4 linked regions of the Homo sapiens genome follow. The protein of the gene in region 3 interacts with the protein of the main gene of each other region in a pairwise test. Each region holds a gene or a part of one and is shown on either strand. Other genes may lie near its edges. The genes, in order: MEOX2, HMGN3, VDR and RPS6KC1.

What was found.
Region 1: the proteins of VDR (region 3) and MEOX2 interact in binary tests that used the Homo sapiens proteins (3 or more experiments, as listed by UniProt).
Region 2: the proteins of VDR (region 3) and HMGN3 interact in a two-hybrid assay, tested with the Homo sapiens proteins (one study listed by BioGRID).
Region 4: the proteins of VDR (region 3) and RPS6KC1 interact in binary tests that used the Homo sapiens proteins (3 or more experiments, as listed by UniProt).

The regions. Positions count from the first base shown.
Region 1 is NC_000007.14:15,683,613-15,691,699, reverse strand, and holds the start of MEOX2 (homeobox protein MOX-2), read left to right. Parts: upstream 1-5,016; 5' UTR 5,017-5,297; coding exon 5,298-5,814; intron 5,815-8,087. UniProt on the Homo sapiens protein: Mesodermal transcription factor that plays a key role in somitogenesis and somitogenesis and limb muscle differentiation. Required during limb development for normal appendicular muscle formation and for the normal regulation of myogenic genes.
Region 2 is NC_000006.12:79,203,296-79,211,270, forward strand, and holds part of HMGN3 (high mobility group nucleosome-binding domain-containing protein 3), read right to left. Parts: intron 5,282-7,975; coding exon 5,252-5,281; intron 336-5,251; coding exon 285-335; intron 1-284. UniProt on the Homo sapiens protein: Binds to nucleosomes, regulating chromatin structure and consequently, chromatin-dependent processes such as transcription, DNA replication and DNA repair.
Region 3 is NC_000012.12:47,845,799-47,853,773, forward strand, and holds part of VDR (vitamin D3 receptor), read right to left. Parts: intron 1,011-7,975; coding exon 859-1,010; intron 654-858; coding exon 537-653; intron 1-536.
Region 4 is NC_000001.11:213,053,693-213,061,667, reverse strand, and holds part of RPS6KC1 (ribosomal protein S6 kinase delta-1), read right to left. Parts: intron 3,911-7,975; exon of another isoform or gene 300-3,910; coding exon of another isoform or gene 141-299; intron 1-140. UniProt on the Homo sapiens protein: May be involved in transmitting sphingosine-1 phosphate (SPP)-mediated signaling into the cell. Plays a role in the recruitment of PRDX3 to early endosomes.

The sequences.
Region 1 (8,087 bases), on a different chromosome or scaffold from region 3:
GCCACTTTAAGAATAAAACTTGCTACAAATTGATGAAGTATGAAAAATAAAAACACACAAGAAAAACTTATCATAGTGCCAAAGTTACATTGGTTATGTTGAACTCTTCAAGTTGGAAAACTTAAAACAGAAGACTAAGGTTTTACTTATAATTCCTGTCTGTATTTTCGATTCAATTTTTCTTCTCTGAGGTTTGTGAACTTTTCTAAATTCAATTCATATAAAAGGATAGCCTTGCTTTTTAAGACATGGGAGAAATAAACGGTGTAGTTCCCTTAAATTGTGGATAGAAATGTAATGGTTATGAGTTGGATGCTATAGAAAATATAACATAATATAGAGCATTTCATTATAGAATTCTCTTGAATTAGTTTGCCTGTACCTCTCCCTGTTATGGAAAGGATATAATTTTCAATGACAAAATTTTGAAAAGGCCTACATTTATCAATAAAAATAACATACAACGTGAATGCAAATGAAAATGTAGAAATTAATTATTGTCTATTAGCATTATTATGAGTTAACTATCAAATAATTATGGATTTAAAACAGGTGAACAAAAGGAAGTCCAGATGGAAGTGTTTGAAATTTGAGAGGCAATCTATGTCTTCCCAATCATAAGACGCCTCACAAAATAAAAAAAGAAAAAGAAAGACAAGAGATCATTAGAATTTTATTAAGTGTGAATACATATTATGAAAGAATGCATATATTTTGAATTTTTAATTCAATCTTTTAGATTTAATTTTATTAGTCATAATCTATATTGCATGCTGGCTTTCTAAAGATCATCCGTTAAATAGTTCTAATTTTGATATATTTTGTTTCCTCTCTTATTGCTTTAGGCAGAGTTATATTTAGCGTTGAGAACAATTTCATTGATTATACTATACCGGAATTGAATGGAAGAAAAACACTAATTCCTGAAAGAAATAAATTTAAATGCAGGAAGACCTAGAAACTAGAAAAACAAAGTACGTTGGATTGTTTTACAGTTTAGAAGTAAGGTTTTAAGTATTCATTTCTTTTGGTACATGTAAAATGAATGTAACAATTTTTACTGTGAATGTACCAATTAATGTTATATAAAAATAATAACATTTTAAAAATGTGTAAAAGTATACAGAATCACTAAATAACATGCATTAGCCATAGCAAAATTGTTCCATAAACTTTATAATGCATAGTTCCTGGGGAGAATCAGTTCCTTAGTTTTATAAAATAATGTACATCATAAATCACATAAATTACCATTGGGTATTTAGCATATTTGGATACATTTTCAAAATTCTTTATTTCAGAAGAACCAACTGAAGGACATAACTGCTACTTTTTGGCAAAATATAGCAGAAATAATATTTCTATACCCAATAAAGTTTTCAGAAACAAATTACAACATTAATTTAATTATCCACCCTTTAGTTCATATATTATGAGTATATGTTACCAAGGAAAATTTATCTATTAGGTAAAATTCAAAGTAGAGTTTCCTATTTAATTTTAAATATTTGAAGTTCCATGACAACTCATGTCACACGTGTGCAGAAGAATGGCAACTTTTAAAAGAATCGTTGTGAATCTTAAAGTAAAATTTAAATACAATTTTGTTGTATTGCTTAATATGAGCTCTAGTCCCCTTAAAATAAAATAGTCCTAATAAAAAGAAATCTCTGCCTTTACTCTTGAATGTCATTTTATTTAAGCCGAGGAAACAATAGATATACACACTTATCAAGTTTAAAGAACCTAGCCTACGTTTAAAATAATTATAGCTGTGGACCCTGCAAGAGCTAAGTAGCTTACCTTTTCACAGAATCAACCTCTTTATAATGTGTTACTTGATATTGAAACCTTACATGAAATGTTGGCATTAATATAACTTATCTTCAGGAAAACTCAAGTATATTATAAATGTAGGATAAATACTATATCATACATAGTTGTAAATGATTGTTATATAGAAATTTTATAATAAATTTTATAATTTTTACCATTCTTCTTGATATCATTAGGTAAAAAGGCATCTTTTCAATATTGGATTTTATGGATGTGAACACTGAAGTAGCTATTATAGGAAATGCTAGGGATTTTTTTCCCGTTGTTACTACATTTTAAAAATTTCTCTATAACCTAGAACATAAAATTCAATATTCTATCTTATTCCAAATATTCTAATAAAATTTAAAAATCTTTATGTAATGATTAATACATATTTAGAAATCCAGAGAAAATTAAAGTTATATTTAATTCTGGAATTCACCAAGACGTCCTTTTTAGTCCTTCATTTTTTCCTTCCAAATATTTTCCTTATATTCTGTTTTCTATAAGAAAACTGGACATCATAATTTTTGCTGATATTAAATGTTCTGTGTCTTCAATTAAAAAGACCTTTCTTGCTAGCTTTGTTTTCATTGCATGCCTTTGGAATGACTTCCTCCTTTTCTAACCTTTCTTAAATTTTTCTTCCCAGGTTTCTGGCCCCACAGTTCTAGAGGCTGACTGACTGGGGCAGGTTGTAGAGAAACTTCTGGACAGGTTGTTAACATCTGACACAGTGAGTGAGAAAAAATCCAGCACAGTCACTGGGCAGGTTTAAGAAGAAGTGGCAGCCTCGGGAGATGAAAGGTTTGTGTGTGCTTGTTGCTGGTTACCTGCAACACACTGGTTAAATTCAAATCCATTCATTTAGTAATTGCTTAGCTTCCTCTAAACCAATGTAATGCAAACCAAAAGGACCGTTGTGGATGTTTTGTACTGATGTCTGCAGATCATGAGTAATTTTAGTCTGTCTTGTCTGACATTTTCCACAATGCTTTTAGTTGACAGCATTATATTATGTAAATATTTCTGGTTAGGTTTATTGAGGTGGTTGCCTAAATCTCACTTTAAATAAAGCCTTTAATGCTTTCACCCAGAATCCATAGAGAAGCTACATGAGTTGGGGAAGTTTAGTGTTGCTCTTTGTACTTTAACTTTTAATATCAGAGCACATATTGAAACCATAAACACAATGAAAATACAAAAAAATATTCCGACGATATTGGAGGACTATAACTCCCCCACCTCTTTTTATTCTTAAAGAGCCAAGGGCGTGGGGAGTGGCAGGAAGAGATATTCTCAAGATCTAAGTCCTGGACGCCATCCTGCGAGTGCTTAAAGCCCCTAGAAACGTGCAACCTGAACAACACCCCTTTTCGAAGTCTAAAACAATATTAGATTCCCAAAATATCGGCAAAGAAAGTCTTACCGTCAGACTTGCAGCAGGTTTCAGCTCAGACCCAGACTGAAAAGCTGAGCAGCTGGTGAACAAAAGATTTAGTTTTTTTTTTTTTTTAAACGAAGTCTGCAAAACTAATTTCCCTCAAAATAGAGCTCAATTTCCGTTAAAGAAAGCAGCGCTTACAAATCTCAGAATTCCTGATCAACCCCCACTCCACCCCACCTCTGAGCAATAGAAAACAATTCGATCTTTCACACGGATGTTATTGCGAAGCCACTATTCTGCAGTGTGACTTAAAAGAAAAGAAGATAGTGAGGCTTAAGCAAGGGGACTGGAAGAGGAGGGGAAAGGTTCTGCTTTGGGGACACCTCTCAAAGATTAATCAATGCTTTTTCCTAATTCAAACCAGATGTCTAGCCCAGTTTGCTGTACCCATTAATCCCACTAACAACTTCAAAGACCTGGTCATCATCCTCTGGACACCTGAGACAATGAAAAAACGGGGCGACACTGCTGGTGGCGCATTTGGGGCCCCGGGCAGAATAGGTGACTACAGATATTCTCCTGATGCGACAGGTCGCAGATGGGACATGACTGTTCCTCCTGCTCATTACAGCGCCACTCACTTGTGTGTAAACGACTCTGCCCCCAGCGGACCCTGTCGCCCGCCAAGCAAGTAGCAGCTTCAAAGCCCTGCCCTCGCTCTCGCATGCTTACTAGAGGCGAGTTTTCTATTTTATTTTCAGGGGTGCAAAATTGTAACCAAGTGCCCACGGTGAGTGAATTTTGGGAGCTATCGAAATGTAAGAATTCTCAGTAAATGGAACCCTGGTGGTAAGGAATGCATTAGCGGATTTATTTTTGAGCAGAAGAGAGTGGATTTCTGGAGGAAACCGAGGAGATCTGGGCTAGCTCCTGAGGGGAAAGGCTAGAAATGCGCGTGCAATCTACACATCTCATATGACCGGGACACAATCGCTTGGAAATATTCTTGACCCAGGAAAAGTTCTTCTTGGTGGACAAGTGGCTAGGAAATTGAGCGGGACCGGGAAAGAGGGGGAAGGGAGCCTCCACCTGGCATCGCACGTGAGGATGCCAGGGAGCAGGCATCTGCAACCCTTTCAGACTCACGCCTTCCTCCCACCCACCCAACCAGGTCCGTCTTCTTTCTGCACTGAGAACCGCCTTTTCCAGGCCATGGTGCTCATCCCCGCAACCTCAGATCTGGCGTCCCAGCCTATTAACAACCCACCGACAGAAACCAGCTGCGAAAACCTAGGCGCGCTGCGGCGCCCGGGGCACGGGAAGATGCAAAGTTTGAAAAACTTCGAGGGTGCGCCAAACTAGCTCTGGTCTTTTCCTTTAACCCTATTACTTCTTTCGTGTTCCTGAAAGGATAGGCGTATCCCTAGCTTTTCTGCAGGTGACAGTTCCCAAATGACACTGACAAGTCACGTTTCCCCGAGAGGAAAGTGAGTAGGTAGGAATCAGGGTGCTAGGTTGGGGGTGGTGTGCGCCGCGCCCAGGCCTCCAGAGTCTGGAGGGCAGAGCTGCTGCCCTCCCGGGCGGGACTTAGACGTTGGCGTGCCGCTTGTAGTCCTGGCAGCCGGCAGTGCTGGGCGGGCGTGGACGCTCTACGTCCGTCCAGCAGGAGATAGGAAGTGGAACTGGGAGCGCGTGGCGCAGGCTGAGCGGGAGTTTTGGAGGGAGTTTGCATGTGGTCAACTCTGGGCTCCTAAGCCAGCCCCCAGCTCACGTTACACTCTATTTATAACTTCTCAGAGCCATTTCCCCCTGAAAGCAGTTCTCTGGGACCACCTTCTTTTGGCTTCAACCTCTCCCACTCTTGACATCTGAGTAGCTCAGGGAAGCTCTTCCAGGTCCGACTGTTCATATGTAAAGGAGACTGGCCGCTGGGGCTCAGGACCGGGATTATCCGAGCTCTGCAGAAGTGCACCGCTATTGCTTTGGGAGGTTAAAAAAAAAATCACACGGTTTCCAGTGAAAAAGTGACAGAGGGTGGTGGCCTTTGGAACCGCCGTGAAGTCTTCTGCCTGGAACCCGAAACTTGCATGCTATGGAACACCCGCTCTTTGGCTGCCTGCGCAGCCCTCACGCCACGGCGCAAGGCTTGCACCCGTTCTCCCAATCCTCTCTCGCCCTCCATGGAAGATCTGACCATATGTCTTACCCCGAGCTCTCTACTTCTTCCTCATCTTGCATAATCGCGGGATACCCCAACGAAGAGGGCATGTTTGCCAGCCAGCATCACAGGGGGCACCACCACCACCACCACCACCACCACCATCACCACCATCAGCAGCAGCAGCACCAGGCTCTGCAAACCAACTGGCACCTCCCGCAGATGTCTTCCCCACCGAGTGCGGCTCGGCACAGCCTCTGCCTCCAGCCCGACTCTGGAGGGCCCCCAGAGTTGGGGAGCAGCCCGCCCGTCCTGTGCTCCAACTCTTCCAGCTTGGGCTCCAGCACCCCGACTGGGGCCGCGTGCGCGCCGGGGGACTACGGCCGCCAGGCACTGTCACCTGCGGAGGCGGAGAAGCGAAGCGGCGGCAAGAGGAAAAGCGACAGCTCAGGTAAGGGCGCGCCAGGCACCCTCGAGAGTGCGCGCCGGGCTGGAAAAGGGGCGGAGAGATACTAGGGGAGATTCTCGCACTGGAGGGTGGCAGCAGGGAAGATGGGAATGTGTTGCCCTCTGTGGCTTCCTGCGGCCAAATTCGGCGGTGAAGCTTTGGTCCTGATATTTGGGGACACGTGTTTATTCGAGAGCAATGCGTATACAGCCAGCAGCTCTAAGCCCTCCAAAGTCCTAAACTAGTTTACCAGAAGGTTGATAAAAAAGGACAAGTGGCTGTGAAATCGATTGTGAAGCGTGACCTTCCATCCCAGCGCTGGGGAGGGAGGGGCGTGCGCCCAGGGATGCAGCGTCCGTTGGGCAGGCGTGCGTGCGGGTGCCGCTTCTTGACTTTTCTCTTGCAAGTTGCCGACTCTGAGTGGCTCGATTTTTCCCATCGTTAACTGGATTTCCAAATTATTGCACAATGTTTGGAACTTGCAATGGAACTTGGCAGAGCGCATGAGAAAAAAAAGTTTCAGTTTTTTTTTTTTAACATTCTTATTTCAGCGTTCTTTAAATAGCACCCTATTTCAAATGGTAAAATTTTCCCTTTATTGGGGAAGAAGACATTATCTAGGAATTCAGATTTTAAGGAATGTGTCAGAGAATTGTAAATAAATAGATGCTCACACTGGAAGAAAGACGAACCTTAATAGTACATGTCCATGTGGTGTAAGCTAATTACAGAACCTAAGTTTCAAAAGTGGAAAATAAATCCCTCTACCAAGTGGGTATTAGTAGAGACAAATACTGCGAAGCAACAGCAACTCGGGTACTGTTAGTTAGATACGTGTCTAAAGGGGTATGCAAGGGTGCGCGCAGGAGGCGCTGATTTCAGTGGGGATAATTTGAGCAGCCATGCAAAAGGGGAACCTTCCTGACCTCTGGTGCTTGAAGGCACAACGTGCCGAATAAATTGTAGCAATCCAGAGAAACTCAAAGTTTCCAGACAAGTTTTCAAAGCTCTTACCTACCTGTATTTTTATAAAATTGTTAAAAGATACTTTAAAATTAAGAGACTTGTGAGTTTTCTTTCGTGGGTATAGTGCAACCTGGATTAAATACTTTTGGAAGGTGTCATTTGTTTAATATAATATTTGCATATTTTTCTTCCTCTGTGGAATTGGGTTAATAATAGTCCTAGAAGGTAATCCCATATGTTGGTTTGAAGGATTGGAAAAATGTTGATCGTGTGTAAAGCTTTAGGTAAGATGCCACATAAATGAAAATGATTGGCCGCATATTTAATATTCCTTCACCATTCACAGCAATATCAATTGTTCTTCAGCGTTACTATAGGATGGATTCTTCTCTCACGGTCTCAAAAGCTAACTTTTATTTTCCAAGGTCAGGGGGTGAACTTTTAATGTTCCATCACAAATTAGTTTTTATAAGAAAATTACCAGTAGTGTCACTGATATTTAATGTATTTTCCTAACTATAAGTGAAACTCTCTTTAGATAGTGAGTTGAAAGGTTAATCATAGCAAAAAGGTTTCAATTTTTATTAGAAAAACAGTCGATTTTAGAATGCAGTGACAATTTCATAAACTGAACATTTGATATCAGTGTAACTTTGGAAGCAGATCCCAGTTCGGGTTGATGAGCGTACTCTTGCAATTCCCATAAGCTCTTACGGTTCATTTTATTTCTTGCAATGAGAAACCTACATGATAGATTGTTCTTCATGCTTCCTGAACTGAGCCATTGCCCTTAAGTTTCTCAGGGCAAACAATTTTCATACAAGCACATGTTATTTTGTTTGGGGAAAACTGAGAAAACGGAATTCAATAACTGATTCCCTTAATTTATTTTAATAATTTTTTTAAAAAATGGAATAATTTAACAAAACTAATTTATCTCTCCCCCCCAACTTAGTGGGAAATAACCATTTAACAAAATTAAATTCATTTCTACATTTTGAAGCTGATAATGAGGGTACTGGAAAAACAAGCAAATATAAGTGTTTGTGTCAGCTACATAAATTATTAACAGATTAAAACTTCAGTGGAAAGTACAATTAGTCATCACCAAGGATAAAAATACTGGGGATTTAGAATGAGCTTTTCTTTCCTTTGATATGTTGAAGAAATATTGACTAAAAGGAAAATCACAATAGTTTCTGTTTAAATCTATGTACACTTATTGAAAATAAAATTTTATTTGCCAATTTCAGCTGAAGGTATATTTGTCAGATATTGAGATAGATTTAAATTAAAGATATCTTTCTCGT
Region 2 (7,975 bases), on a different chromosome or scaffold from region 3:
TGTGCCGCATGAACCGCATGTTCACGAGGCTGCTGCCAAACCCCCTTCGGACATGAGGCTTCTCAGAGCAACATCTCTGACTTCCCGTGCCTCACTGACCAAATGGAAAACACACTCCTATTAACGCAGAAAACTGTGCTTTATGCCTTTAAGCAAGCCCGTAACAGTGGTAATGGTTTCAGTTTGGATCATTAAATACGGCCTTTCTTTGAATGATTCTGAGGTAGGGAATTATAATTTATTCATTGTTTAAAAAGCCAAAAGTGGGAAACAGCACTTCTTACCTTAGCAGATGTTTTTCTTGGTTTGGGTTCAGGTTTTGGTGGAGCAGGTTTCTGCAAAGATAATTTAAATTACACAAATACTGAAAAAAAAAAAAAACTATCAGCACCAAAAGAAACACAAAAGGACTAACAAAGACAACTATCCATTTTGACATGGCTTTGGTCATTAAAAAGTATTTCATCCTATTTTCAGCACCAGGTAACAGCATAAAGATCTCTGCATTTCATAACTATTTTCACCCTGGGTTCACAAGGGAACTGCAGGTGAGATTGAAAAGCCGACTCCTTATTCCCTGGTCCAGAATAGCTCTCCGGGAACAGGTCTAAGCTTCTATCTCCAATGTGTCTGCTCTTCCTTTTATCACAGCACAGCAGCAAGAGGAATGACTCAGGCCCATGGCCAAAGGACTCAATGAATTCAGTTGCACTGGCCTTCCTAACAGTCTAGAAATCACAGCACAATCACTAGCAAAGCCCAACTGGTAATGAAGACTGCTGCCTGTGAAGTATTTCAAAATCACTTCCAAATCCTTCCACTTCTAATGTAGATTTCGAGTTCTGTTGCCAAGCTTCTTCCTACTTTTATTCTCCCCAATGCCAGCTCAAGGTGAGAATCTCTTGTCTAACCAGATATGCTGGGCTCATTTGTGTCTAAAGGTTTTTATTGAGAACATCATTATAATGATAAAATGTCTACTGTTAGCTCCCAAAGTTTAAATTTTTCACAGATATTATTAGCCAAACAGTCCCCTAGGAAACTATTTTTCTCTTGCCTCATGTGGTCCTCCTCCAGTTCCCATGAGCAGCACCTGCACACCGTGTGACCATGGACCCTCTGCCACACAATGCTTCAGCCCTGGCCAGCTTCCCAGGGGCCTGAGACCAGGTGGCACATGCGGATAACTGGGGAAAGATAACCATTTTACACCAGGAGTTTTCTGTGGATATTTTAGGGCAAATATTTCTCTCATAGAACTAGAAAAAAGTGTACATCTCTCCTGGCACTAGAAGAATGGTTTTAAAATAGAAAACACTGGCCAGGGTCTCCCCCTATGGAGAAAAATACATGTTCCTCCCTAGTGCCTCTAGGTAATTCACGTTCACACTGAATCTGCCCCTTTTCATCAAGGGCATAAAGTGAAATTGTAGACAGTTTGATTTCAGAAGATTGGCTGTTAGAAATGACCTTTCAAATAAAAAAAGAAAATCGAGCTTGAAAAGTTAAGAAATGTTTTTATTAATCTTCTTATCACCCTAAATCTGCAGGCCAAATACAGCAGCTTTCATGGCTCTTACATTTTCAGAATTTAAAACATTTTGTCATCCTAAGCTTTGATATACTGTATTAATATACATGTTTTCTCCATTTACAGTAAACAATTTCCTTTTATATTATTTTCTGTAGGACAGACCTTTCCCTCTGACCCAGCATTCAAGTGTTTTGATAGGACCAGGAAATGAGGTTTTGTAGTCTGTAATCCTGCTGGCCTCTGAGGAGGCTCTGTTTCGGTAGCACAGGGAATGATCTCAGTGGAAGGTGCTTATATTGCTGGTTTCTGGTGCTCAGGAAAAGCTTTGTTTTAAACTTTGGTTTTCATTTGACTTACAAGGTCTGTTCCCTTAACTGCCTGGAGATTCACAACAGCAACCCCAGCTCTTAAGTCCTCCTAGTGACTGACACCTCTTCCTAATATGGTTTAGCTGTGTCCCCACTCAAATCTCATCTTGAATTGTAACTCCTACAACTCCCATGTGTCATGTGAGGAACCCAGTGGGAGGTGATTGAATTATGGGGGTGGGTCTTTCCTGCACTGTTCTCATGATTAGTGAATGAGTCTCATGAGATCTGATGGTTTTAATAACAGGAGTTTCCCCGCACAAGCGCTCTCTCTCTTTGCCTGCCACCATCCACGTAAGACATAATTTGCTCCTTTTGTCTTTCTCCATGATTGTGAGCCTTCCCCAGCCACATGGAACTGTAAGTCCAATTAAACCTTTTTCTTTTGTAAATTGTCCAGTCTTGGGTATGTCTTTATCAGCAGCGTGAAAATGGACTAATACAGTAAATTGGTACCAGAAGAGTGGGGCACTGCTGAAAGATAATGAAAATGTGGAAGTGACTTTAGAACTGGGTAACAGACAGAGGTTGGAACAGTTTGGAGCGCTCAGAAGAAGACAAGAAAATGTGGGAAAGTTTGGAACTTCCTAGAGACTTGCTGAATGACTGTGACCTTTCCTAAAGATTTGTTGAATGGCTTTAACTAAAATGCTTATAATGATATTGACAATGAAATCCAGGCAGAGGTGGTCTCAGATAGAGATGAGGAACTTGTTAAGAACTGGAGCAAAGGTGACTCTTGTTACGTTTTAGCAAAGAGACTGGCAACATTTTGCCCCTGGTCTAGAGATTTGTGGAACTTTGAATTTGAGAGAGATGATTTAGGGTATCTGGTGGAAAAAATTTCAAAGCAGAAAAGCATTCAAGAGGTGACTTGGGTGCTGTTAAAGGCAATCAGTTTTAAAAGGGAAACAGAGCAGAAAAGTTTAGAAAATTTGCAGCCTGGCAATGCGAAAGAAAAGAAAATCCCATTTTCTGAGCTGAGGAGAAATTCAATCCGGCTGCAGAAATTTGCATGAGTAATGAGGAGCCAAATGTTATGCACAAGACAATGGGAAAAATGTCTCCAGGGCACGTGACAGACCTTTGCAGCAGCCTCTCCCATTACAGGCCCAGAGTTTAGGAGGAAAAAATGGCTTCGTGGGCCTGACCCAGGGTCCCTCTGCTCTGTGCAGTCTAGGGACTTGGTGCCCTGTCTCCCAGCCGCTCCAGCTGTGACTAAAAGGGGCTAAGGTACAGGGGCTATTGCTTCAGTGTGTGGAAGCCCCAAGCTTTGGCAGCTTCCATGTGGTGTTGAGCCTGCGAGTGTGCAGAAGTGAAGAAATGAGGTTTGGGAACCTCTGCGTAGATTTCAGAAGACGTATGGAAACAACTGGATGCCCAGGCAGACGTTGTTGCAGAGGCAGGGTCCTCATGGATAACCTCTGCTAGGGCAGTGCAGAAGGGCAATGTGGGGTTGAAGCCCTCACACAGAGTCCCTACTGGGGAACTGCCTAGTGGAGCTGTGAGAAGAGGGCCACTGCCCTCCAGACCCCAGAATGGTAGATTCACTGTCAGTTTGCACCGTGTGCCTGGAAAAGCTGCAGCCATTCAATGCCAGCCTGTGAAAGCAGCCAGGAGGGAAGCTGTATCCTGAAAAGCCACAGGGGCGGAGTTACCCAAGACCATGGAAACCCACGTCCTGCATCAGCGTGACCTGGATGCAAGAAAAGGAGTCAAAGATCATTTTGGAGCTTTAAGATTTGACTGCTCTGCTGGATTTCGGACTTGCATGAGGCCTGTAGCCCCTATGTTTTGGCCAATTTCTCCCATTTGGAATGGATGTATTTACCCAATATCTGTATCCCCATTTTACCCAAGAAGTAACTAACTTGCTTTTGATTTTACAGGCTCACAAGTGGAAGGGAATTGCCTTATCTCAGATGAGACTTTGGACTTTTGAGTTAATGCTGAAATGAATTAAGATTTGGGGGACTGTTGGGAAGGCATGATTGGTTTTGAAATGTGAGGACATGAGATTTGGGCGGGGCTGGGGGCAGAATGATATGGTTTGGCTATGTCCCCACCCAAATGTCATCTTGAATTATAACTCCCACAGTTCCCATGTGTCATGGGAGGAACCTGGTGGGATGTGATTGAATTATGGGGCGGGTCTTTCCTGTGCTGTTCTTGTGAAAGTGAATGAGTCTGGTGAGATCTGATGGTTTTAAAAATGGGAGTTTCCCTGCAGAAGCTCTCTCTCTGCCTGCTGCCATCCACATAAGATGTGACTTGCTCCTCGTCTTCCACCATGATTGTGAGGCTTCCCCAGCCACATGGAACTATAAGTCCAATTAAACCTCCTTCTTTTGTAAAATGCCCAGTCTTGAGTATGTCTTTATCAGCAGTGAGTGTGAAAACAGACTAATATACTTCCTTACGAGACTCACGTGAAACACTGGCTTGCCTGATCCAAACAGCTGTATTTCTGAACTTGTGAGTGGTCCTAATACCCATTTTTGCTTTGATTCCTTATATTGTATCAGGCACAGATTTGGGTTGAGAATGAAATCCATGCTTTCCTGAAGACCAAAGTAGCATGAAGCTTCTGTAATAGCTAGTATGGGGATATACTAATATAGTGTCAGCCAAAATGCCAATGCCTTTCCCTCTACCTTCTCAGTGGGAAGTCTGGGCTGCAGGAATTTTAACCAAAATCCTCCACTAGAGTCCAGCTAATCTCTCAGGAGAGCAGCAAAAGAGAAGAGCATAAGAACCAGTAAGGAGCACAGGTTGGTGAGGAAGAGCTGAAGGATGTCCACCTCAGAGGCTCAGCCACATCTGCCCATCTCAGCTTGTATCCTAACCCCACAAGAATCTCCTGGCCCACAGAAGGAGACACCAAATAGCAAAGTAGAATTATTACTATTACAAAGATTCTTTAGGTCTGAAATGAGGCTACAGTATATGGACTCAGACAACTTTCAGAACATTCTCATACATACATTCTAAAGTATGAGTTGTGGACAGAGAATCAGAATTCTGTCCACTTCAGCACATCATAGGTACAATCTGAAGACTGGAACTTTGCCTAATATACTACTTTTGTTTCAGAGATCTAGCAATGTCAAACAACATCCTGCTTTATATTCTTCGTTATGGGGCTGGCCACTGTTTTTCTGACACATTTGATCAAGTGAATTGCTTGGCAACACTGGTCAAATTTGCTAGACATGAGGACCCTAGGTAATTTTCAAAAAGAAAATAAGCTCATGGGAAACCATGTTAATCTTCCTTTTGCTGCTTCACTTTGGACAAAGGGAACATGTACTCATAAGAACTAACACTGAAGTGGTTCTAAGGTACTTACCGCTGACAATCTGGCAGACCGTCTTGTGGGCTACAAAGGGAATGGGAAAATATACATATTTTTTGGTGATTATATAAAACGAAGTTGATTTTTAAAAATCTATTCTTAATATACCTTACTTTGTTGAATGACTATAATGTATGATTCCCATCACCTTCTCCAGGTAAGCACAGTGAAACATATCCCAAGTCCCCTGGGCACGATGACACTCAAGAGGAAGTGTTTCTAAAAAGGGGTAGGTATACTGTTCAAATAAACGGCTTCTCCCAACTAAGGGTGTGGTGAATAAGTAAGGGAAATGAAGATCAACTTAGGCTTTATCCCAAATTAAAACCTCTACTTTTATGACAAAATCAACAGCAAGAACATTGAGGTGCTATTTAAGAGCTAGTCTTCAGTCTGACTCCAGCTCCTTAAAAATGGAACTAAAGCTTTTAAGTTAATACAAGAAGAGACTTATGCAATTGTGTAGAAACCAAAATAGCAGGAGTTCCCCATCTTGCTGCTATGTTAGAAATGAAAATGACTACAAATCTTGGCAGTTAACAAGAAAGGCTTCTTTTTACCTATAACAAAACAAACACATTTATCTAGTAGTATATGTTCAAAGGATTTAACCAGAATTAAAAGTGCATTACTTTTTCTTTTAATTTCAAAGTTTAGAAAATTTACAGAGAAACTGTGTAGAAATTGATATTTTGGGGAAATCTTTTTTTCTTCAAGGATATTACAAGTTAACAGCAAATGACCCTGAAAAGAAAATCTAAATTAACAGAACTGTCCTAGGCATTTCAGCAATAACACACAAAATTGATATTCTACTTACCATCCAACCTACGGTGGCTCCCCAAGGGATTTCACATTCTAAAAGCATAACTGCCTTTTTAAAAAAAGTGCCCTAGAAATAAATACTCCATACTTTTTGTCTGTTTTATTCACTGCTCCATCTCCAGTACAGTAGGGTACTGGCCAACATATAGTACAAACTCAGTATTTGCTGAATAAATGAATCCAAGCCTTTCCCTAATTCTCACTGCCTTATGCAGACTTTGCCTCATTACAATAGCTTAAATGTTTCAAATAATTCTTCCTAAGGGGGACAGCAAAAATGGTCAGTAGGAATCCATGCCATAATTATGAGGAATCATGGAATTCTTGAAGTGGGGCTAAGGTCAGTCTAGGTCAGCCAGTCAGGCCAAACTGGAAGAAATATTTCTTGCCATCTCCACATCTAAGAACTTTCTTGCTGAAAATAGCCAGAGAAGCTAAACTCATCTTTCTTTAAACTACAGAAGGAAACGAAGGGCCAGAGCCTCCATGAATACTTTTAACCCTGGAGTCTCGAAGAAAGATCAGAGCTGGACTTAAGGCCAGCTAGGAGAATGTGCTGAGAATGAAAGGCTGTGCAGGTTAAGTGATTGGGTGGGATACACTCACTGCACAGAGTAAAAGCTTGTACAACTCAGCACATAGCCCTGTGAATTAGTACAGGAGGAGTGTGTGTCAGATTCTCCATAGGAACCATAGTGCCTGCTATGGTTATCAAGGGTGCATTCTTGACAGTGCACCCATAAGTCCCTGGGAACCAGAATCCAAATCCTGCAATACCTTTCCCAGCATGGTTAACCGTATTAAGTATACTGAAGGCAACATTTTCAAGTAAACCGGGCAATAAGAGGTATCTTGTGTTTTTTTAATGTACTTTCTGAGCATAGAGGAGCAAAGAGCACCTTCCAATTACCCAACAGAGCTCAGCTTTGAAGCTTCAGTGTGGCCTCAAGGACTATCCATGTCTCATAAACTACAGCAGGCAGAACAATACCTTCCAAGATGAAAGTGACAGTCTCCATGCTAAAGAGAGGTGAAAGAGCCTTATCTGACTCTCTCTCCACTTGATGTCAACTCATGTGCACCATGCTGGTCTTGCCTCACGTTCACCTCATCTGACACGTCTCCATACCTCCTTGCACAGGACCACCTTCTCTTATATTTCTATGGCTCCAATATGTAGCAGGGGCCCTCAATAAGTGTTGAGATGAACAGAAGGGGTAAGCACCAGAAACATACAGCAACTGTGAACTTGTAGGGAGGGGAAGAAGTCCTAGAGCCACTACTCAGTTACTCTTTAGTTTGGGGCCTGAAAAGGGTCCAAACATGTTAGCCATTACTCAAAACTGCCTCCCTATCTGCCATCTAGTTGTCTTGAATAAAATCTCCATGAAGTGAGGCAAAATCATGTGAAAAGTTCCCCAGCTGCGACAATGTTGTTCCTCTCCATGTGAAGACCTGAACATACCAAATAGACTAAGTGATGCCAGAGAGCTCTTTGGGATTTCCAGAGACATTCCAATCTAAGCACTGCTCTACTGGGACTAACAGCTGTTCTGATCCAAAGGACTTAATACCTTTTAAAAATTCAGGTCCAGTACAGGAGTTCCAAAATAAAAAGCCTCGGAAATTAATGCAAAAAAAAAAAAAAAAAAAAAATGCCTAAGCTGTCTAAACCAGCCAGTACCTAAAAATCCTATCTTCTATTATAAAATCATTTTATGACTTGCTACATACAATTTCCCAGCTCTTCTTTCTATGCCATTAAAAAAGACTTTTCTTACATTTTCTTTTCCAGTAGCTATCATAAGAGATTTTCGTTTTCACTGCAAACAGTGGAGGCTGAGATGAACCTTTCACTCAGTCAGCAGTACTGATTATGCATACAAGTATGGA
Region 3 (7,975 bases):
TGGACCTCATCACCGACATCATGTCCCCAAGGTCACAATAACTTCCTCTTCGGCCTTTTCTCCCTCTTCTCACCTCTAACCAGCGGAAGAGGTCAAGGGTCACTGCACATTGCCTCCAAAATCAATCAGGTAAACTATATAGGCAGAACCATCTCTCAGGCTCCAAAGTTTTGTACCCTGCCCGCAAGAAACCTCAAATAACAGGAATGTTGAGCCCAGTTCACGCAAGAGCAGAGCCTGAGTATTGGGAATGCGCAGGCCTGTCTGTGGCCCCAGGAACCCTGCTTATCTAGTTCCTCAGAATCCCCCCTACGAATCGCCTGCACACTCTGCAAGGCAGAGCTAAGGGCAGTGAGGGGCACCTCAGCGTCCACACACCACAGGGGCTCTGCAAACCAGCAAAGTAGGTATTTCCTTATCTGTGTCTCCTTTTGCTACGTCTCCCTTCAGGTTGCCCAGCTGGCCCTCAGCAGGTCTTTGTCCTTCATACTCCCCGCTCCCCAGGTCCCTGAGCTCCTCCCTGCCTGGCCCCATACCTGGGGAGACGATGCAGATGGCCATGAGCAGGACATGCTCCTCCTCATGCAAGTTCAGCTTCTTCAGTCCCACCTGGAACTTGATGAGGGGCTCAATCAGCTCCAGGCTGTGTCCGGCTGTGAGAGACAATGGCCAGGTACTGCGGGCAGAGCTGAGGAGCCGCCCACCCACCTCCAACCCCATGGGTCTGACCCTCGCCCTTCTCTCCCTGTTGGTGCCTAACTCCCTCCCATGTATCTGATTGGAGCCAAACCCCAGGACGGGTGGAGCCAGAATCTGGGAGCTGAAAAAGACTCCCCAGGAGGTGGAGTCTAGGCATACCTTTGGTCACGTCACTGACGCGGTACTTGTAGTCTTGGTTGCCACAGGTCCAGGACATGTCGTCCATGGTGAAGGACTCATTGGAGCGCAACATGATGACCTCAATGGCACTTGACTTCAGCAGTACGATCTGGTCCTCAGAGGTGAGGTCTCTGCAGGGGAGGGAGGGAAGGAGGTCAGGTTACCAGTAAACGCCTTCAAGCCACACAAATCAGTTTAGTGCTTTGACAGGTATACACCTGCTGGGCACCAACATGCACCCTGGGTCTTTCATCGAGGAGCTTGCAGGCTGGCTGGAAGGGACAAGAGTGTTCCTTGAGAGAGAACAGTTCAACACTGTGATCATGTGCCAAGGCCAGAAGTGAAGTAGCTCAGTTACTAAGACAAGAAAAACTCAGAGACCAAGCAGCCAGAGCTATGGGGCACAGGAAACGGAGCCCAGGGAAGTTCCCAGCATTGAGGCATGAATATGGTGGTCTGCAAAAGGTAGGGCCATGGTATCTTCAACAACACCCAAGTTTTCTCCTCCTCTCCCTCCTACTGTCCTCCAGTCCTTCTCAGTAGTAAATTCAGCCAACTCTGTCTCTAGGATGTCTCTCAAGCCCGTGATCTTATTCCCACTCCTACCAGGAGTGCCCTGGTTCAGAGCTCCAGCGTCTTTTCCAATAGCCTCTTACAGGAATCCCAGACTTGTGTCTCTCCAGTCTCTCATTCATCTTTCTTACCACTGCTGCAGGTCAATGTCCTCTTGCACTCAGAAATCTTCACTGACTCTCAAACACCCTAGGATCAGGCCCACACTCCCTAACTTGGCTCCAACCTCTCATTCCAACTCCCTTTCCCATGGTAAACTCCACCAACCTTCCATTCTAGCAGCATCATGCCACTCCACATTCAGATGCTGTGTGTTCTCACTGTGCCTTTTTTTTTTCTTGTGACAGGATCTCACTCTGTTGCTGAGGCTGGAGTGCAGTGTTATGATCATAGCATGCTACAGCCTCAAACTCCTGGGCTCAAGTGAGTCTCCCACCTCAGCCTTCCGAATAGCTAAGACTACAAGCATGCGCCACCATGCTCAGCTAATTTCTTTTATTAGTATTTTTAGAGACAGTGTCCTGTTCTGTCACACAAGCTGGAGTGCAACAGAATGATTATGGCTTACTGCAGCCTCAAACTCCTGGGCTCAAGCAGTCCTCCTGCCTCAGCCTCCTAAGTAGCTGGGACTACAGGTGCACACCATCACGCCTAGCTAATTTTTTTTGAGACGGAGTCTCACTTTGTCGCCCAGGCTGGAGTGCAGTGGCGCGATCTCGGCTCACTGCAAGCTTCGCCTCCCAGGTTCACGCCATTCTCCTGCCTCAGCCTCCCGAGTAGCTGGGACTACAGGTGCCCGCCACCATGGCCAGCTAATTTTTTTTTGTATTTTTAGTAGAGACGAGGTTTCACAGTGTTAGCCAGGATGGTCTCGATCTCCTGACCTTGTGATCTGCCTGCCTAGGCTTCCCAAAGTGCTGGGATTACAGGTGTACGCCTAGCTAATTTTTAAATTTTTTTTGTAGGGATGGTGTCTCACTATGTGGCCCAGGCTGGTCTCAAATTCCTGGCCTCAAGTGATCCTCTCATCTTGGCCTCTCAAAGAACCAGGGTTACAGGTGTGAGCCACTGCACCCAGCCATCACCACGCCTTTCAGCATACTACAGCTCCAGCCAGGAATACCCTTCTAATTCTCCATTTTGTTTTTCTGGTCCTGAATCCACTGTGTTTTCCACTGGAGCCCCGCACCTTCTGACTCTTTAGCACAGTTAGGGCCATGTCATTGTGATGCCTTGAACATTGCTGGTGCTCTTATTTTGCCCGTCTCCTCCAGTTCTGCTCTTTACATGCTTGTTTTCTACTCCTTTTTTTTTTTTTTTTTTTTTTTTTTTTTGAGACAGAGTCTTGCTCTGTTGCCCAGGCTGGAGTGCAGTGGTGAGATCTTGGCTCACTGCAACCTCCACCTCCCAGGTTCAAGCAATTCTCCTACCTCAGCCTCCTGAGTAGCTGGGATTAGAGGCACCTGCCACCACACTCAGCTAATTTTTGTATTTTTAGTAGAGACGGGGTTTCGCCATGTTGGCCAGGCTGGTCTCGAACTCCTGACCTCAGATAATCTGCCTGCCTCAGCCTCCCAAGGAGCTGGGATTACGGCGTGAGCCACTGCACCCGGCCACTTGTTTTCTACTCTTGTTTGTAAGTTACTTGGGGGCCAGCACCTCCTCTTAATCACCTTACTGTTGCCCACACACTGACCATTGAGCCGTCAGCACAAGATGATCAATAGAGATGCGTTGATGATTTGAGAGGCCAATGACTAGTTCCACTATTCTGAGTCAGGAATGGGCTTGTCTGAACAATGGCGAGGAAAAGGCAGGGCTCACAAATCAGCTTGCTTCTGGCTTTTACTCCCTTTCTCTTCCTGACTGTCTACTTCCTCCTGGATATCCTGCAGATAGGCTGTCACCCCGTCAATGGCTGCATGTTTATATATAAAGATGGGAAGCTGATATTAACTGATGAGAGTGTTGTATCAATGGGTGATAGATGGTGGGAAATGAGAAGGCTTGCATGATCAGGATGGCCAGCAAAGGATCTGTATTGAAAAAAAATCACAACGTGCTAGAGTTGGAGGGCCCCTCTTAGGAACTCTTAGAGATGGCTCCTACATAACCTCTGCAGGACTCTCCTAGGGTCAGGGAGCTCAGGGCCTCTGGACACAGCCATGGGGTTGTTAGCGCCGAGATTAATGACCTCTTCTATTGAGCTACAATCCACGTGATAGTACACTCATTTGTGGTTTACAGTTTTGTGCTCAATAAACCCAGAACCAGACTTCTCCACTAGCCATGGGACTTCCTTTGAACCATAACTAATGGAGTTTTTTAAAAAGGAAAACTGCCGTGTCCTCCTTCAGATAGTCTAATGACACAATGTCTAACATCTCACCATCCTTGTCACTTTTCTCTAGATGCTCAATCCACATTTAAAACACAAAAATGAACACCATCCCCATTTTTGTTTTGACTCATTATACAAGTAAAACATACTCATTATCAAATCTTTGGAAAATACATAAAAATGTAAAAACAAATTAAATTTGCTCATAACCACACTTCACATTTTGGCGTATTTTCTTCCTATCTTTTTTTCTTATTTATTTATTTTAATTTTTTTTTTGAGACAGTCTTGCTCTGTCACCCAGGCTGGAGTGCAGTGGTGCAATCTCGGCTCACTGAAACCTCTGCCTCCCGGGTTCAGGCAATTCTCCTGTCTCAGCCTGCGGAGAAGCTGGGACTACAGGCATGTGCCACCACACCTGGCTAATTTTTCTATTTTTAGTAGATATGGGGTTTCACCATGTTGGCCAGGCTGCTCTTGAATCCTGACCTCAAGTGAGTCCTGCCCACCTTGGCCTCCCAAAGTTCTGGGATTATAGGTGTGAGCCACCGTGCCTGGCACCTTCCTGTCTTTTTTCTATGCAAATATATATATACCCACAAATATACATAGAGAGAGGGAGTATACATTTAACATACTGGAGCTTATACTAATTCTTTATCCTACTTCCTATATCACTCAAAATTATTTAGCCCAGTTCTTAGAGGGTTGCATGATGTTACATCATAACAGTATACTCTAAGTTATTGAGCCAGTCTTCCATTTATCTATTTTTGAACATTTTGATTGCTTCCAATTTTTGCTATCATAGGTAATTCTGGGAGGAATAACTTTATACATAGCCTTTTGTTCAGTGCCCCACTCAAACAGATGGCCAGCAGTGAACACATCTTCCATGGATGCAGGCCAGAGAGGTTTTAGTGGGATCACTGCTTTTGTGATCCAGACATCCTGCTGCTAGGAACACAAACCCAAAACGACCCCAAATGACTGCCCACAGCCTGGAAATACAGGGCCTTTCTAAATACAGCTCACAGCCAGGACCAGGGATGGTGGCGTGGTGGGAGTAGAGGTGGAGTTACAGGGGAAGCCATAAGAGAGCTTGTTCCACGATGATAGGCACCAGCACAGCTCCGTTCCCCCTCCCTCACCTGTGTGACATTTACACCCTCCTCTGTCTTCACGCCTGCAGCCGCTTCTGGGCACCCGAGATGTGACTGGAATTGTGTTGCTGTTTCGTCTTTCCCACCCCCACAGGCAGAGCCCGGCCCCTCCCCTCCCCTCCCGCATTCCCACGGTACCTCCAGCAGGCTTGTAGCAGGGCTCTTATCTCCTTGCAGCAATTGTTTACATGTCTATCTCTTTCATCAGACACCAAATCCCTGGATGCCAGGGACTGTCTTCTCAACAACTTTTGTCCCTCACAGTTTATGTAAGAAAGCTATTTGTTGGATGGATGAAGAAATGAATGTGGAGAAAGGGCACAGCACGAAGGAAGCATGATAACCCCCAGGGCTCTTCCCTAGGTATGGAAATGGCAATGAAGGTGAAGGCATTTAGCAGAAGAGGGCAGGGCTGCAGCTTATGTGGCCTGGTCTCTTGTGTACTTTACTTGTCAGTGAAGCCTGGGGGTCCCAAGTCCTCAGATCTAAGGCTGCTCTTGGCCATTTAGATGCTGCTGCTGATGCCACCTCCTCCATGCATTTCATTTGCAGTGCCAGCAGGGAGGGAGATTTGTGGGGTGAGACTGAGAGGCTAAGGGAGGAGAGATGGGAGGAGAGAGCAGGCCAAGGCCACACTGTAGCACAGTTCACACCAAGAACAGCCCATCCAGCCCTGCCCCACGTTGGTCTCATGCCCCCACTGGAGACTCATCCTGTGCCCCCACACACCCACACAGAAGTCTCATCCTGCCTTCCCCACACCCTCCGCCCCTGCCTGCAGGCAGCAAGATCAAAGCCACCAGGGATGCAGCCACTGTTCTTCTATGTCTTGGAACAATAGAACCCCTAAGTGTGGAAAGCAGCAGAACCAGAGAGCTACTGGGCTGGCCCACCCTGGGCCCAGTTGGAGCCTAGGTTTGGGCTCCAGTCCAGGCTCAGCATCACCTCTGTCCAGTCACAGAGAGCGTCCATACCAGTGTCCCTGCAAGCTCTCTTAGCAAGGCCTGCTCCATTTTCATTGGCATACCTTCTGCTCTGGGACTTCTCAAGTCATACTGAAGACAGAGAAGCCAACCCTAGCATGTTCAGGATCAGTTTAACCCATTTTGCATCAATGGCTGGGCAGCTCCTGTACCTGCCATATGTACCTCACTTTAGCCATGAGTTGCAAGGACAGACTAGGGGACAGAGGAGAACATGATGAAAGGAAGAGGGCAGACTTCAACTTAACCTCGGGAAGAGAAACTGAGAGTAGTGCTATTTGTGTCAGGGTACATGTGGGAGGGCAATGGATAGGGGCCTTGAGCATGGGAGAAATTGGAGGCTGGGGTTCCTTAGTGAAGGGGGCAGCATTGGAGTAATCCGATTTAATGAGTAACTTTCTTTTTAGGGCAGCTTTCCCGTGTATGCAATCTCAGCCACCATTGGAATCACTGAACCTGGAATCACTGTATCTGGAAAGGGCCGTGGGGGCCCTCTGTCCTACTCCCCACTAGAGCAGGGAAGGATGAAGCCTGTGTAGACAAGGACTGCTGCCTGACATGAGGATGGAAGCCGAGTGCTTCTGTGTTTTTTCCCTAGCTGTTTACACAAAACAAGACTTTGGAATATGTGGAGTTTGCAAACAGTAACGTGAAGCGTGGAGGAGGGAGTTGGAACTTGTGCTCTACGGAATGTGTTGTCAGTTCCAAAGAAAGCCTCTGAGGGTAAACCCTGGGCTCAGAGCAATGCCGGGCTCACACAAGATCTGTCGCTTGCTCCTGCTTGCCTGCCTGCCAGAGGGGCCCTCGCTCCTATCACTACAACCAAAATGTGCAATGCAGTAGGAGTGTCTCAGCACTGTCTGCCAGTTTTCTCTTCTTCACCATTTTCACATTAATTCCAGGGGAAGAGCATCGAAAAATTTCTGTTATTTGGGTTGGTGAGAGGCATAAAATAACACAGAGCCAGTTTTCTCAGGGCAGAAACAAACTGGAAAGTTCTGGGTTTAGCTCTGTGAATGACCATCATCTCACTGGCAAGGCATTAATTTCGGCAATAACTCATGGCTTTTCTACACAGCTAAGAGGGCCATACACCAATATATGGCACCTCATAATCTGTTTCCATCCAGAGCCGGCAATGTTAACTCATTTTCCAGCTCCCCATATTCCAGCACTGAATCTGAGCATTAGTATCTAGGAAGCATTTTGCCCCTTCTGCCGTAAATACAGCTATTGCTGCTACTTGAAAGACAATAACATTGCTTGAGATTGATTTACTTCTCTTTCTCAACCATATTGTTTATGTATTTTATGGCAATATACCAAATGAACTTTGGGGAAGAATGAAGATACAAATATACATAAATATAGCCATTTCCCAACACATCTATTAAATGTGTCAATACTCTATTGTTTTAAGAATATTGGCCGGCAGTGGCTCATGCCTGTAATCCCAGCACTTTGGGAGGCCGAGACAGGCGGATCACGAGGTCAGGAGATCAAGACCATCCTGGCTAACACGGTGAAACCCTGTCTCTACTAAAAATACAAAAAAATTAGCCGGGCGTAGTGGCGGGCGCCTGTCATCCCAGCTACTCGGGAGACTGAGGCAGGAGAGTGGCGTGAACCCGGGAGGCGGAGCTTGCAGTGAGCCGAGATCATGCCACTGCACTCCAGCCTAGGCGACAGAGCGAGACTCTGCCTCAATTAAAAAAAAAAAAAAAAAGAATATTGGCCGGGCGTGGTGGTTCATGCCTGTAATCCCAGCACTTTGGGAAGCTGAGGCTGGCAGATCACCTGAGGTCAGTAGTTCAAGACCAGCCTGGCCAAGATGGTGAAACCCCAACTCTACTACTAAAAATACAAAACTAGCCAGGCGTGGTGGTGCGTGCCTGTAATTTCTGCTACTCAGGAGGCTGAGGCAGGAGAATTGCTTGAACCCAGGAGGCAGAGGTTGCAGTAAGTTGAGATCGCGTCATTGTACTCCGGCCTGGGCAACAAGAGGGAAACTCTGTCTCAAAAAAAATACAAAAAAT
Region 4 (7,975 bases), on a different chromosome or scaffold from region 3:
ATATTTAAAATCCATACTTTCATGTTAACATACTGACATATTTAAACTGGACTTCATACATACAAAAAAAAAAAAACACCCAAGTCTTGCAGGAAAAGTAGGTCAAAGCACCCAGCTCACATAGGCAATTGTTACCTTACCAACTCAACCTCCCTTTCATGACCACCTGCACCTGAGTTCTTCTCTCCCGCTCTTCCCTGCAGAGCCACAGGTGGCACTGGTTGGCAAGAATATTTGGGCTGGTTATCACCCACCAGCCAGGCAGTCTGGACCCAAGAGGCAACACCTGCACAAACCATAATTAGACATTTTATAATTTTTAGTTCTCTGGAGTGAAAGAACTCCCATATAAGATAGATAAGTCAATGGGACAAATTTTAGACATTCAACTTTCTAACAAGTTTTCACGAAAGCATTATGTCAAAAGTACTACAGACTGAATGTTTGTGTTTCTCCTAAAATTCATATTGAATTTCATGTTGAAACTCTCATCCCCAATGTGATGGATGTGGATGTGAGGCCTTCCAGAGGTAATCAGGTCATGAGGGTGGGAACTTCATGATGGGATTACTGCGCTTACAAGAAAAAGACAATGATCTCTCTCAGCCATGAGACCATACAGCAAGAAGGCAGCTGTATGCAAATCAGGAAGCGGGCCCTCATCAGGTATTAAATCTGCTGGCCTCTTGGTCTTGGACTTCCCAGCCTGCAGCCTTCAGAACTGTGGGAAAGAAATGTCTATTGTTGAAGCCATCTAGTCTATAATATCTTGTTATAAAAATCCAAACTGACAAAGACAGTAAGGAGTTGTGGCTTTCTAGATTATTAAAATCCCAAAATCTCAGGGAGAGTAAAGAAGCTAAAACTGCAAGTTATCTCTAGATACTCAGTATATGTTTGCTAAAGTTATTTTTCTCACCTCAAATTTTACCAATTATAGCAGTATTCTAAACTATTTTCCAATCAAGGTTCAAGGAAAATCAAAATCCTTAATGTTAAAGAAAGTCTGCAGTTTAATATAAAATCTTAATATCTGAGACAAGTTGTCAACAAACAAGATGAAATCAGGAATGGTTTACATTTTTTAAGTTCCATTTACTGAAATTTTTGGTATATTAGAAAGTTTTCTACTAAACAATATTACAAGTTAAAAACAAAGGAACAGTAGAATAAAACTAGACTCTAGAAAACACAAGACACCTTGAGAGCCATTTTTCAAAAATTTTAAGCATAAATATATTTTACAACAAACTAATTGCCCTCCCTATCCCTATGATTATTTTGTTTGTTGAAAATATCTCCAGATTAAGCCAAAACTAAGTATTTATTCAAGAAATCTTCAAGAAGCTACTGATTTAACAACTGAAATCTAACAACTCCCACTGCCTTAATATCAGACATTTGTTAATAATCCTAACAGGTTAAGGATTTAAAATTTAGTAGGTTCTTTCTTTTTTCCTTTAAAGTGACTCAAATTATTGCTTGAAATGTGTATGACTACATATTACTTCAAAATTTAAAAGCTAACAAAACTAAAAAGTAAAACATGCAGCTGGACGCGGTGGTTCACACCGGCAATCCCAGCACTTTGGGAGGCTGAGGTGGGCGGATCACCTGAGGCCAGGAGTTAGAGACCAGCCTGGCCAACATGGCAAAACCCCGTCTCAACTAAAAATACAAAAAAATCAGCCGGGTGTGGCCAGGCGCAGTGGCTCACGCCTGTAATCCCAGCACTTTGGGAGGCCGAGGCAGGCAGATCACGAGGTCAATAGATGGAGACCATCCTGGTCAACATGATGAAACCCCATCTCTATTAAACACATAAAAATTAGCTGGGCACGGTGGCGGGTGCCTGTAGTCTCACCTACTCAGGAGGCTGAGGCAAGAGAATTGCTTGAACCCGGGAGGCAGAGGTTGCAGTGAGCCAAGATCACGCCATTGCACTCCAGCCTGGGCAACAGAGCGAGATGCGTCTCAAAAAAAAAAAATTAGCCGGTGTGGTAGCACATGCCTGTAATCCCAGCTACTCGGGAGGCTGAGGCAGGAGAATCACTTGAACCCGGAAGGCGGAGGCTGCAGTGAGCTGAGATCGCACCACTGCATTCCAGCCTGGATGACAAGTGAGACTCTGTCTCAAAATATATATATATAAATAAATAAAACATGCAGCCTCCCATACACAAAAACTCTACCGTGAAAATTATACTAGAGGATAAAAGACTGAATGCTTTCCTCCTAACATCAAGAACAAGGCAAGGAAGTCTACTCTCACCACTCCTATTCAAGACTGTGGACTACAAGTCATAGCCAGTGTAATAAAGCAAGAAAAAGAAATAAAAGACATACATTTTGGAAAGAATAAATAAAACTATGCCTTTTGGCAGACAACACAGATTGTCTATGCAGGAAAAAACCAAGAATTCTACTAAAAAGTCTTAGAACTAATAAGTCAGTTTGAAAGGTCACATGATACACCAACATGGCACATGTATACATATGTAACTAACCTGCACGTTGTGCACATGTACCCTAAAACTTAAAGTATAATTTAAAAAAAGTCACGTGATATAAAGACAACACAAAAATGAACCAAATTTCTATATATTAGCAAAGAAAAGCTGAAAACCAAGATTTTTAAAAATACTATTGACAATAGCTACAAAAATACGAAATAGTGGGGAATAAATCTAACAAAATATACAGAGAAGCAATTTGCTCAAAACCACAAAATGCTGATAGAAGAGATCAGAGAACACAAATAAACTGCAAGACATACTGTGTTCATAGATTTGAAGATTCAACATAGAAAAGATGTCCATTTTTCCCTAAAGTGATCTACAGATTTAATGCACTCCTAATCAAATCCCAAAAGGATTTTTTGTAGCTATAGATAAACTGATTCTAAAATATATATGAAAAAGCAAAGGAACTAGGGTAGTCAAAATAATTTTGAAAAAGAATAAAATTGGAGAAACAATATTGCCTAATTTTAAGATATAGTATAAAGCTATAATAATCAAGATTGTATGGTATGGAACAAAATAAGAGAATCCAGAAACAGCTTTACACATATATAGTCAATTGACTTTTGGCAAAGGAATAAAGGCAATTCAACGAAGAAAGGTTAGTCTCTTGAACAAATGGTGTTTTGTTGCAATGGGACAACCAGAGGCAAAAACAGAACCTTCACCCAAACCTTACACCTTATAAAAAAACAAAAAACAAAAAAAAAAACCTCAAAATGGATCATAGAGCAAAATATAAAATGCAAAGAAATAAGTTATCTAGAAGAAAACATTGGGAAAAATATTTGTAACCTGAGGTTAGGCAGAGATTTTAGGTATGACACTAAAAGCATGGTTCATAAAATAAAGAACTGATAAACTGGACTTCACCAAAATTACAAATTGTGCTTTGCAAAAACACTGTCTGGGTGCAGTGGCATACCTGTAGTCCTAGCTACTTGGAAGGCTGAGGTGGGTATCACTTCAGCCTAGGAGGTCGAGGCTGTAGCACACTATGATCACACCTGCGAATAAGCACTGCATTCCAGCCCTGGCAACACAGCAAGACCCCATCTCTAAAAAAAAAAAAAAAAAAAAAAAAAAGGTCAGGCGCACGTCTGTAATCCCAGCACTTTGGAAGGCCAAGACAGGCAGATTGCTTGAGACCAGGAGTTTGAGACCAGCCTGGACAACATGGTGAAACTGGGTCTCTATTTAAAAAATACAAAAATTAGCTGGGCACAGTGGCACATTCCTGTAGTCCCAGCCACTCAGGAGGCTGAGAGGTGGGAGAATTGCTTGAGCTCAGGAGGTCAAGGCTACAGTGAGCCATGATCACGCCACTGCACTCCAGCCTGGACAACAGAGGGAGACTCTGTCTCAAAGGAAAAAAAAAAAAAAAAAAAAAAAAGATACTTCAGAGAATTAAAAGATATGCTCTAGATCAGGAGAAAATATTTACAAATGTCATATCAAACCCCAAAAAAAAGATACCCAGAACATAAAGAACTCTCAAAACTCAGGAGTAAGAAACAAACAACCCAAAGAAAAAAATAGGCAAATTATCAGTCTAAAAGGCTAAATACTATATGATTCTATTTATATGACATTCTCAAAAAGACAAAAGTATAGTAGTATAGATAGATCGCTGCTTGCCAGGGTATAAGGAGTAGGGGGAAGGGTGGAGTTTTTTTAGGATGATGAAACTTCTGTTTCTTGATTATGGTGGTAGATAAATGAATTTATACTCATGTTAAGATTCAAAGAATTATACAAAAGAATAAGTCAATTTCATTGTATGTTAATTTAAAAATCAATACTTGAAAAGCAAAGCGCTGCCTCCTTCCAGCCTACCCTGAAATCCCTACTATAGTCCAAGCTCTGTGCTAGGCACCAAGAATATACAGTTAAAAAGACAGAGTCAGCCGGGCATGGTGGCTCACGCCTGTAATCCCAGCACTTTGGGAGGCTGAGATGGGTGGATCACTTGAGCTCAGGAGTTCAAGATCAGCCTGGGCAACATGGTGAAACCCCGTCTCTTAAAAAAAATACAAAAATTAGTCAGGCAGGGTGGCATGTTCCCGTAGTTCCAGCTACTAGGGAGGCTGAGGTGGGAGGATTGCTTGAGCCTGCAAAGTCAAGGCTAGAGTGAGCCGTGATCGTTCCACTACACTCCAGCCTGGGTGACAGAGTGAGACTCTCAAAAAAGAATAGAGTCTGCCATCAGAAGAGGTGTCAAACAAGTACATTATGATAACGGAGGAGATACAAGACATATAGAGAGCAACGCCTAAAAAAAAAAAAAAAAGCTTCCCGGAACACAGGGTATAGCTGACACCTGAGATGAGCAGAGATTGCCAAGACAAAAGGAAAGAGTATTCCAGACAGAGAAAATAGCATCTAACAGAGAGATATGGAAGAATGTAGTGTTCTAACCTAATTTGGAAACTACAAATAATTCCATTCCCAGGCACAAGCAGGCTGCTTAAGAATATGGTCAGGAAATGAGGACAGGTTCCCTCCAAGCAATATAAATAGTGCTTCGATTTGAAGCTTTGGAAATGGTAATTTTTCAGACTTAAGTGAAGCTCAGTACTTCCCATTAATTCCCTCACTCCCCTTTGTTCACATCATCACAGTTACTTATTATTCACGTATCCATCACTTTTGCCAAACTATAGTAATGCCCTTGTGGGGACACATAGGTGTCCCCATATGCACACTCACAGCACCTAATGAAAAATGTTTTATAATACAGGTATTCAGCAGCATAGCATTGGGATTAAAAGCACTGTGATTGGGACCAGTCTACCTGGGTTCAAATGTAGACTCTACCACTTGCTGGCTATATGACCCTGGACAAGTTACTAAACGTCTCTGTGCCTCAATTTCCTCATTGAAAATGTGGAAATGATAATGGTACCTACTCACCGGGCCCCTGTGACAAATGTGTTAATTTAATATAAACTGCTTGACTCAGTAAGCACCATGTAAGTGTTTGCTGTTATTACTCAACAAACACTAGCTACGTATAATAAAACTAGGATTTATACATTCTCCTGGTTTCAAAATAAACCCAAACTACTTTAAATAGGTGCAAAGCCAATGAGGTAGCTTGTGCCCACAATCCCAGGCAATAGGCTGAGGAGGGAGTAACACTTGAACCCAAGAGTTCAACCTGCAGTAAGCTATGATTGCGTCACTGCACTCGAGCCTGGGTGATGCAGTGAAACCCCCATCTCTGAAAAAGATCAATAAATAAAAATAAACATGTGCAAGACTGTATCCTGAGAATTACAAAGCACTGCTCATACTGAAGAGCTAAATAAATGAGGAGATATATTATGTTCATGGATCAGAGACAATATTATTAAGATATCAATTCTTCTGAAATTCATCTACATTCTCAATATAATCCCAATCAAAATCTGGACAGGCATTTTTGTAGAAACCAGACAAGCTGATTCTAAATTTTATACACAAATGCAAACAATCTAGAATAGCCAGAACAATTTTGAGAAAGAAAGAGTACTTAGACTACCTGATTTCAAAACTTAGTATAAAGCTACATAAACAAAGCCATGTGGTATCATGAGAAATAAAACCATATGTCCATACAAAGACTTGTATATGAATGTTCATAATAGCTGTATTCATAATGTCCAAAAACTGGAAACAACCCAAATATCCATCAGATAAAATGCAGTATATACAGATAAAATGCAGTATAACCATACAATGGAATATGAGTCAGCAATAAAAGGGAATGAAACACATGACAACATGGATAAATCTCAAATAATCATACTGAGTGGAAGAAGCCAGACCAAAAAAAAAAAGTGCATACTATATGATTCCTTGTATACAAAATTCTAGAAAATACAACCCAATCTATAGTGACAGAAAGCAAACCAGTGGTTGCCTAGAGATAGGGAATGAGGGGGAGTGACTGACTGCAAAGGAACATGAGGGAACTTGTGCAGTGATGAACATGGGTAGTTACACAACTGTATACATTTGTCAAAACTCATCAAATTGGACACTTACAATGGGTGAATTTTACTGTATATAAATTATGACTCAATGTAAATTAAATAAGTTATAATACAGCACTGTCTTTTGAGAATAAAAACATACCTTTTATACTCATGGAAAGAATACAGGCAAGAACTGCCATTCACCTACTGTTGCTGAGAAATCTATACTACAATATGAGAATTTTGTAAACTTAGCATGATGAAATAACTGAAAACACTGCTGATGGTTCTCTTACACTTGTGTCTCCTTCAACTAAAGAATCAAAGGGAACTTATGAAAGAATTTTCCAATTCTGAATAGAGGTACTTATTCTACATAAAAATTAAGAAATAACACTGAGTTTAACTGCAGAATCTGTTAGTATGCTTGCAACTGGCCTCAAAATCATCTAACCTTGCCAGATTTCAGAGAACTGCAAAAAAGCACAAAGGAGATTTAAGAAGATGAAAAAGCTCTTTTGCTATCCAAAATTTAACATTGGTACTTCCAATGATTAAAACTCTACTCCTACAGAAATAACCCTGCAAGGATCAAAAATATAGAAAATTGTTCCTTGAAGCTAGAAGTAAATCAGTAGTAGAAAATATACAGAAGACATTCTTAATTTTTATCTCATGAAGTTCTCTCAGGAGAGCACTATTTACCTGGTTAATTATCCTGAAAAAAGGTGTTTTTCTCCTTAACTCTCAAGAAATATTTTATAATACTAAGCACAGTTATTTTAAAAGTATGTCTCCACGTTGACTCTCAGACCTTACATTTTAAAAACAAAATCTGTAACATAAGCAATAAATGAAGACATAAATATTTACGGGAAGAAAAAAGGCAGTCTGTGCAATTTTCAAGTTCAAATAACCAGAGCAATATGTAACATGCATATATATAAATGTGGTTAGTTCTAAGGCAATGTGCTACTTTATCTTCTAGTTTATATTGTCAAAACTTAGCTCAGTAAATAGGTCACAGCTTCAGATATTTAAGATCTGAATTTGGCCAATGCGGTGGCTCACGCCTGTAATCCCAGCACTTTGGGAGGCTGAGGTGGGTGGATCACCTGAGGTCAGGAGTTCGAGACCAGACTGGACAACAAGGCGAAACCTCGTCTCTACAAAAAATAGACAAATTAGCCGGGTATGGTGGAGGGCGCCTGTAATCCCAGCTACTTGAGTGGCTGAGACAGGAGAATCACTTGAACCCAGGAGGCGAGGTTACTGTAAGCTGAGATAGCGCCACTGCACTCCAGCCTGGGCAAGAGAGCGAGACTACGCCTTGGAAAAAAAAAAAAAAAATTCTGAATTTGGTTAACCTTTCCTTTTGTAAAGTAACAATACAAATAATTATACTCAGTGCTTCCAATTCCAGTTCCACACACATTCATACCTCCAGGTCTTTATGGACTCTACCCCTTCAACTGTCTACCTTTTCATACCCTC